2 linked regions of the Homo sapiens genome follow. The protein of the gene in region 1 interacts with the protein of each later gene in a biochemical or structural test. Each region holds a gene or a part of one and is shown on either strand. Other genes may lie near its edges.

Region 1 (4,537 bases):
GCACTGGCTGAGCACACGCAGAGCTAATCATGCCCCGGATATGAACCACTCACTGGCCTGGTCATCCTAATTATTACTAGGCATAAGGTACATGATTCCATAAACCTTGGCAGTATAAGGACACAACAAAAAATACCAGGTTTTTCCAAGGCAGCACACTAAGCATTTCAAATATTTGTACCAAAAAAATCTAGCATGCAAGTTTCAGAAGCTTATCTGCACTTAGCTCACTGATATGGAAAAAAGTCTTATAATGGTCTGATTTATTTCAGAGCAGTTTCAGTTCCTTAGAAACTTAAAATAGCATTATAGACTTTTTTATTTTTTTTGAGACAGAGTCTCACGCTGTCACCCAGGCTGGAGTGCAGCGGTGCAATCTTGGCTCACTGCAACCTCTGCCTCCCGGGTTCAAGCGATTCTCCTGCCTCAGCCTCCCCAGCAGCTGGGATTACAGGCGCCTGCCACCATGCCCGGCTAATTTTTGTGTTTTTAGTAGAGACAGGATTTCACCACGTTGTCCAGGTGGGTCTCAAACTCCTGACCCCAGGTGATCCACCCGCCTCGGTCTTCCAAAGTGCTGGGATTACATTATAGCCTTTATACACAGCCATACAAACATTTCCTACTTCCACTAAGTCTTAGAATGATTTTTACTGACCAACAGGCATCATGGAAATGTCTGGAGCATTTGAGATTTTACGAGTTAATTTTCATGTATTAGCTGGGTATATACTTCTTAAAAACTGTAATCTTCAAGTCAACTTATCACATTGTATTACAGTTGCTGTTACCTGATCAGAATTCAGTATTTTTTTTTTTTTTTTTTGAGACAGAGTTTTACTCTTGTTGCCCAGGCTGGAGTGCAATGGCATGATCTCGGCTCACCTCAACCTCCGCCTCCTGGGTTCAAGCGATTCTCCTGCCTCAGTCTCCCGAGTAGCTGGGATTACCGGCATGTGCCACCACACCCGGGGCCTGGCTAATTTTATATTTTTAGTGGAGATGGCGTTTCTCCATGTTAGTCAGGCTGGTCTCCAACTCCCGACCTCAGGTGATCCGCCTGCCTCAGCCTCCCAAAGTGTTGGGATTACAGGCGTGAGCCACCACGCCCGGCTAGAACTCAGTATTCTTAAACCAGCGTTGCCTACCAAGTTTAGCAATTCCGGGAATGCCAACTGTCCTTACAGTCACTCTCGTATTTGCTTAGCTATGAGAATAATTTGGGGCTAACTTCACCAAAAAAGAAAAACAAGCAAGAACATCACTCTAGTAACAATAAAAGCCACTGTATTTTGCTTTCATCAAATGTGGCACCTTGTGAACCAGCTTTCTTAAAATTATTTATTTTAACCTTTAAAAATTTCTGCCAGGTAGAGCTTTCTTCTTTTCCACTGTGCAACCCACTTCAGTGCCAGCAGCCTACGGGCACAGAGGCCAGGCAATGGTTCGGGGACACAGTTTGCTCTGGCATGGGGTACTATGACAGGCCCAGGGTGACGGGCCTGTCATAAATCCAAACCCATGCATAGAATTTGCTTTAAAGCTCTATCTATTGTGACTGCTTGGCATTGTCAACCTCCGAAGTTGCCTAAATCACCCCTCGGAGAAGGGAAGAGAGTAACAACGCTAGCAAAACCATTTTTGTTACAGACATGGTTATATATTTTTGTTTATATGAAGAATATTTACAATTTAATAATAAATAGGCTCATGCAGTCTCGGACTGGGTCATTTGAGGCCTTATTAAATATTTTTAAGGCAATGTTCAGGCCTAAACTTGGAAAGTTTTGATTTCTTTTTAATACGCCAATACTTTTTTGCTTTTCTGTATCTTTTAAGGCGTTACTTAAGTAACTTACTTGAATATATTTTACTGAAGAACACCTTTCGGTCTTTCTGTAACAGCTAAGTTATTTAAAATGGTCAATCAATTAGCACAAGAGGATAATGTTAGAAGAGATAGGGGCTAATTCAAACAAACTTTGAAAAAAATTTCACAAATCAATTAAAGTCTGCCCAATTTTATGTTTAAACAAAGTCAGCCAACACATTCTTTGTCCTCCCCAGACATTCCTGAGAGGTTCTGCCTTCTACACTTTCACCAATTATTTCGACTTCGCAAACAGCACAATCAGCCTTTTCTGCAAACCTTAGGGCTGTCTCCCCTGTGTATGTCCGTTCATCTAAGCCAAGCTTTTCCGAAATCACCGAGTCATTCACAGTCCTTAAATAAACACCTCTAAGTCATGGCCGAGCATCTAATATCACAGCTACTACAGCAAGACTATCTTAGCTCTACCCACTCTCGCGGGTTTCCAAATTGGTGTCATCTGCTCTGTAGACACAGCGAAAATAAAAACTGGAAGGAAACTGAAGGCGCCAAGGCCGGGGCCCGCTCGTCTGTACCAAGGCGAGCCCGGGCTCTGCGCCCCTGCACCTGCTGCGCGGCCGCCAGGGCCTCCCCAACGGCTCCCCGGCCAGCGCGCGGCCGCCGAAGGGTTGGGAAAGAGGCCGGCGCGGGGCCGCAGGGTCTCCGGGTGGGTCTCCCCTAGGCCCCTCCAGCCCCGAGCTGTGAAGACGGGGGCAGAACGAGGCGCCCGGATCACCCTTATCCAGCCGCGGGAGAACCCCGGGCCGGGAGGAAGCGGCGCCTCAAGGTCGTGGCCCGCTCGGCGACCACGTGTCTCCGCAGGCCGGCGAGGCGCGCCGCACACGTGCCCGGGGCCCGGGGCCCGCAGCCCGCCCCGGCTCCCGCCCTCGCTCCCTCCCTTCCTCCGCGGCCGGGGAGTCCCTCACCTCAGAGCGCCCAGGCGCCGCAGGCCAGCCCCATGGGGAAGCGCAGACGCCGGAGCCTGAGTCGCAGCCGCAGGAGCGCTCGGCCGCCCCCGCCGCGCCCGTCAGCGCCTGGCTCCCGCCCGCCGGAGACGCCGGCCCGAGGTGGCGCCGGAGCTGCTGGCAGAGGGGCGGCGGGCGGCGGCGGCGGCGGCTACAGGAGGGACTGACAAAGCCCCACGGCACGCCGCTCCCTACTTATAGCACCGGCGGGTCGCCATGGAGACGCACCAGCTCAAACCAGCCACGATCGGTTCCGGCCGGGACACCGCCGGGGGAGGGGCGGGGGCCCGGCGGTGGCCAACCCGGGCCCGCGCGGAGCTGGTGGGGCGCCGGCGGGCCGACGTCAGCCGAGCCGAGCACCGCCTGCCCCACGCGTGGCCCCCGCCCCCGGCTTCGCGCCCCGCCCTCCCCGCCCTGCGGCCGCCTCTCCCCGCCCTCCCCGCCCTGCGGCCGCCTCGCCCCGCCCCGCCCTGCGGCGGTCTCGCCCGCCTGGAACTGGTCCGCGCACGCGCACGACGCCGCAGGCCCCGGCCCCGGCCCGCGGCAGCTGAACGGCAGAGCCTGTAGCTGCACAGCTGTGCTTCCACCTGGCGTTCAGTACCTCGTGCCCGAGAGCGGAAAAGGGAAATCGCGAGCGGAGGACCGATGTGCTGGCCACGTGGGCCCCGCCGGGCCGACTCCGGACCCTGCTGCCGCCCATTCCTCCGGTGCAAGGGACCTGGAAGTGATCCCGGTGCCGCTCTGCTCCCACCAGCTAGGGAGCAGAGGCGCGGGAGGGAAGGGGCGTCCCGGGGGTCGCCAGCACGCTGCGGGCAGGGCTGGCAGCCGCCTCCACGCCCCCGCGCTGGAAGCCTCGTCTTTGTAACATCGAGGTATCCTGTAACTAGATGGGTCCTGGCCTGCGGAGGTAGTTTCCCCTGTGAAGCCAGGGACTCAGCCAGGAGCGTGAGGGGACCCGGATCCTGAGTCTCCAAGCCGCCCACTACCCTCTGCTTTACCGGATGGAACTCATCAGTAACTAGGTATCTTTAAGGGCGGCTCCCTGGCGCGCTCTGAGAGTTACGGAAGTCCCAAAATGCTTTGACCGAAAACGTCTAAACAGTGAATACATAAAGCAAAAAGCCGCGTGGGAAATTCGAGTCCCTAGGAGCGCCCAGGGGACGCCTCTGGAGGTGGACTGCCACTCACTCCAGGCCACGCTGGAATGCCCGCACCAGGGAGGCACTGCACTTGAATTGGGGACACTTTTTTTTTTTTTTTTCATTTTTACCTTTCATTCCCTTTTGGACAATCCAGACAGGATATGTCTCTCCCTAGGGTGGGGATTTCGACTCCTTAGGGTGGGAGTACAGCCGATGAAGAGTTAAGGAGAGGAGTGGGTAGATCTAGATCTAGCCTTGGGTGGGTGGGGGCGGGGTTGGAGGAGCTCAGAGCACTGGCCCAGCGCTGCCCCCAACTTGCTGTGTGCTCTTGGACAAGTTATCTCCCTTCTCTGGGCTTCAGATAACCCAAGGATCCTTACATATCTTTATAGCTACAAAGCCCTGTGAGGTTTTGAAAAACTTCCTTGGTACCCAAAACCAGGTCTGAGGCACAGTCAGTGAATACCTGTTTAATGAATGCATGCATAAATGAATGAATGGATGATCCAGCTCTTCCTGGAGCAGGCACGACTTCCACAGAAACAGAGCAAACGCTAGCC
Region 2 (4,446 bases), on another chromosome or scaffold:
TATTATTTTTTATTTTGACTGAGTTTCACTCTGTCACCCAGGCTGGAGTGCAGTGGTGCAGTCTTGGCTCACTGCAACCTCTCCCTCCTGGGTTCAAGCAATTCTCCCACCTCAGCCTACCTAGTAGCTGGGATTACAGGCACCCACCACCACGCCTGGCTAATTTTTGTATTTTTAGTAGAGATGAGGTTTCACCACGTTGGCCAGGCTGGTCTCGAACTCCTGACCTCAGGTGATCCACCTGCCTCGGCCTCCCAAAGTGCTGGGATTACAGGCATGAGCCACTGTGCCCAGCCCTTTTTGATTTTTAATTAAAGATCTTACAATGGTCGGGTGCGGTGGCTCTTGCCTGTAATCCAAGCACTTTGGGAGGCTGAGGCGGGCGGATCACCTGAGGTCAAGAGTTTGAGACCACCCTGACCAACGTGGAGAAACCTCATCTCTACTAAAAATGCAAAATTAGTCGGGTGTGTGGCGCATGCATGTAATCCCAGCTACTCTGAGGCAGGAGAATCGCTTGGACCCGGGAGGCGGAGGTTGCGGTGAGCTCAGATGGCGCCATTGTACTCCTGTCTGGGCAACAAGAGCAAAACACAGTCTTAAAAAAAAAAAAAAATTCTTACACTTACATGCGTAGAGGTCAATTTTTAACTGGATTGGTGGCAAAAGAAGAGCTGGAAATGATGTTTAATGATACTATGATGCTTACACTGAGCCGTCTTGTTTGGGTGGTCTAAGGTAGCAGTGAATCTAAATAGTCATTGCCAGTTGAAAAACTATTAATGAACCATCTCCCTCCACATTCCCCTTTCTTTAAAACATTTAAATATTCTTAACTTAGTTGCACACTATTGATGTGATAAAAACTTATAAGCCTTTTAAGTTTAGAGTTGTATTATTTGGTAGGATGATGATTGTGATTTAATCTGCTGATCATTAGTTTACTTTTGTTTTCTGAGTCAGATGCTCACCCAGTTTTACCATGATTTTTGGAAAGCTTGGCTAGAAATAAAATAGAACATTTGCTTCTCTGTCCCCAAGCATTATGTTATTTCTTATTTCTCTTTATAATTCCCTCTCTGTCCAGGTATACCTGGTTTAAGACTTCTCATTTGTAACCTCAGTGTTCACATTTGAAACAAGAAAAGTGCATTAACATGAGAATCATTCTGGTGCAAAGATTCTCAGGATTTGTAATATCCTTAAGAATCACCCAAGGAGCTTATTGAAAATGCACATTCCTGGATTTACTCTCAAGTATGGTACCCCAGGGTCTGCATACTTCACAAGCGTCCCTGGTGGTTTTAGGGCAAGTGGTGAAAAAAGTACACTTGGAGAAACTATTCTAGAGTTGTAGACTAGACTAGGGAATAAAGAAACATAAATGTCCTTCATTCCTGAGCACTAACCCCGCCATTATGTGAATGCATATTAATGGATACTTAATCACATTGAATTACAGTATGCAGATTTTATTAAGAACATGTCTACCTCTTATTCTGATGCTGTGAATGTCTACCACAATGAGAAAGTAATTTTAAAATCATTTCTATTTGTGTAAGAGAAACCCGAGTTTGAGGACCTTATTTTATTCTACGCTGTTTAGATTTGTATCCTCTGGTAATTTAGTGGCATTAGTCACCTGCTAATTAATCTTTTTCCTTTCCCCTGTGTTCCATATAGAGAAAAGTGGTAAAGAATCTACCTCACTGGGAATGTCATCATTACCAACTTCAGATGGGTTTAACCATCCCGCCCGTTCTTCAGGACAGAGTCCTGATGTTGGTAATCCTATGAGTCTTGCTCGCTCTGTCTCTGCTTCAGTCTGCCCTATCAAGCCCAGTGACTCAGATCGCATTGAACCTAAAGCTGTGAAGGCTTTGAAGGCTTCAGCTGAATTCCAGCTAAACTCTGAAAAGAAAGAACATCTTTCTTTACAAGATCTTTCTGATCATGCTTCCTCAGCAGACCATGCTCCAACAGACCAGAGTCCAGCTATGCCTATGCAGAATTCATCCGAAGAAATAACTGTTGCAGGTAATCTGGAGAAATCTGCTGAAAGAAGCACCCAGGGCCTCAAATTTCATCTCCATACAAGACAGGAAGCTAGTTTATCTGTCACATCTACTAGGATGCATGAACCACAGATGTTTCTAGGTGAAAAGGATTGGCATCCAGAAAATCAGAACCTGAGTCAAGTGAGTGACCCTCAGCAGCACGAAGAACCAGGGAATGAACAGTATGAGGTTGCACAACAAAAAGCTTCACATGACCAAGAATATCTTTGTAACATAGGGGACCTTGAGCTTCCTGAAGAAAGGCAACAGAATCAACACAAAATTGTTGATTTGGAAGCTACGATGAAAGGAAATGGGCTCCCACAGAATGTGGATCCTCCAAGTGCGAAGAAAAGTATTCCATCTTCAGAATGCAGTGGCTGCTCAAATTCAGAAACATTTATGGAAATCGATACAGCTCAACAGTCCCTAGTTACTTTGCTTAATTCAACAGGCAGGCAGAATGCCAATGTCAAGAACATTGGTGCATTGGATCTCACTTTAGATAATCCCTTGATGGAAGTAGAAACATCAAAATGTAACCCTTCATCTGAAATTTTGAATGATTCCATTTCCACTCAGGATTTACAGCCCCCAGAAACTAATGTTGAAATACCTGGAACAAATAAAGAATATGGCCATTACTCCTCTCCAAGTCTCTGTGGCAGTTGTCAGCCTTCTGTGGAGTCAGCAGAAGAATCTTGCCCGTCTATAACGGCAGCCTTGAAAGAACTTCATGAACTTTTGGTTGTTAGCAGTAAACCAGCTTCAGAAAATACATCTGAAGAAGTAATCTGTCAATCAGAAACCATAGCTGAGGGCCAAACCAGTATTAAAGACCTTTCTGAAAGATGGACCCAAAATGAGCATCTTACCCAGAATGAACAGTGTCCACAAGTCTCCTTTCATCAGGCCATATCTGTATCAGTGGAGACAGAAAAATTAACAGGTACTTCATCTGACACTGGAAGAGAAGCTGTAGAAAATGTAAACTTCAGGAGTCTAGGTGATGGCCTGTCAACCGATAAGGAAGGTGTCCCCAAATCTAGGGAATCCATAAATAAGAACCGTTCTGTCACTGTAACCTCAGCTAAAACATCCAATCAGTTACACTGCACCTTAGGTGTAGAAATTTCACCCAAACTTTTAGCAGGTGAGGAGGATGCACTCAATCAGACTTCTGAGCAAACTAAGTCTTTGTCATCCAATTTCATATTGGTTAAAGACTTAGGTCAGGGCATACAGAATTCAGTAACAGACAGGCCTGAAACCAGAGAAAATGTCTGTCCTGATGCTTCGAGGCCATTACTTGAATATGAACCACCTACCAGCCATCCATCATCAAGTCCTGCCATTCTTCCACCATTGATTTTTCCTGCCACAGATATTGACCGCATTCTCCGTGCTGGCTTTACTTTGCAGGAAGCTCTTGGAGCTTTGCATCGAGTTGGTGGGAATGCAGACCTTGCACTTCTTGTTTTGCTCGCAAAAAACATCGTAGTTCCTACATGACTGTGGGAAAGTGGGCTAGACCGTTCTCCATTCCCTTTAAACAAAAGAAAGCTCTCTCTATATACACGCACACATACACACTCACCACATATACAGTATATATAGAAACCTGCAAGCAGAATGTTGAGCCAGATTTTTTTTAAAGATTTTTTTCGGCCAAAGTAATTTATGATCTTTTGTCTGATGAATTTGTCTATCCTACTTGTTAAAATTTAGGCCTTTTTAAATGTATTGGCAGTATGTGCATACAGAAGCTTTTTATTCTCATTAAGATGTATCCTGGAATAAAATGGATGGTTTTGTGTGTAGCATACTGTTTTAGAATGAGAGTAAATGCTTTGAAAAGCAGAAGCCATGAGAAATCCCACTACCCATCCAGCTAAAAACAGATGAACTCTCCACACTGTGACTGTGTGTCTGTGCTGATGGCAAGGTATGGTTTGCTGGCTCAGTTGTCAATTTAGAAACTTTTGACCACATAATTTGGTGTTTGGAATTCTACCCAGTGCTCTGTGTATCATGATTCATTAATTATAACAGGAAATTGGAGAATAATTGAATATCTTATCGTAGAGTGGTATGTTTTTATTTGTGTGCTTAGGATTTGACATTTTAATAGGGCGAGCAGGAGGGTTTAAATCTTGGGCTACTTTGTGCATCACAGGCTGCTGCATGGATTGCCATGAATCCTTATTACATTGGATGGGATATTGTGGGGGAGTTACAATGCAAGTGAAACGTGGTGCTACCCAGATTCTTAAAAGAACAGAACAACCATAATTCCATTTGCAGATGTCAAGAACTGTGAGGGAAAAATAATGGCCTAAACACTGGAATTTGCTAGAGTTTGGGTTTGCTAGCATCTCACTGATAACAC

Evidence for each region.
Region 2: the proteins of ODC1 (region 1) and RSC1A1 form a complex in vitro, tested with the Homo sapiens proteins (one study listed by BioGRID).

Annotation. Positions count from the first base shown.
Region 1 is NC_000002.12:10,445,325-10,449,861, forward strand, and holds the start of ODC1 (ornithine decarboxylase), read right to left. Parts: upstream 3,004-4,537; 5' UTR 2,797-3,003; intron 2,689-2,796; exon of another isoform or gene 2,150-2,688; intron 1,526-2,149; exon of another isoform or gene 1,390-1,525; intron 1-1,389. UniProt on the Homo sapiens protein: Catalyzes the first and rate-limiting step of polyamine biosynthesis that converts ornithine into putrescine, which is the precursor for the polyamines, spermidine and spermine.
Region 2 is NC_000001.11:15,658,154-15,662,599, forward strand, and holds RSC1A1 (regulatory solute carrier protein family 1 member 1), read left to right. Parts: upstream 1-1,559; 5' UTR 1,560-1,715; coding exon 1,716-3,569; 3' UTR 3,570-3,880; downstream 3,881-4,446. UniProt on the Homo sapiens protein: Mediates transcriptional and post-transcriptional regulation of SLC5A1. Inhibits a dynamin and PKC-dependent exocytotic pathway of SLC5A1. Also involved in transcriptional regulation of SLC22A2.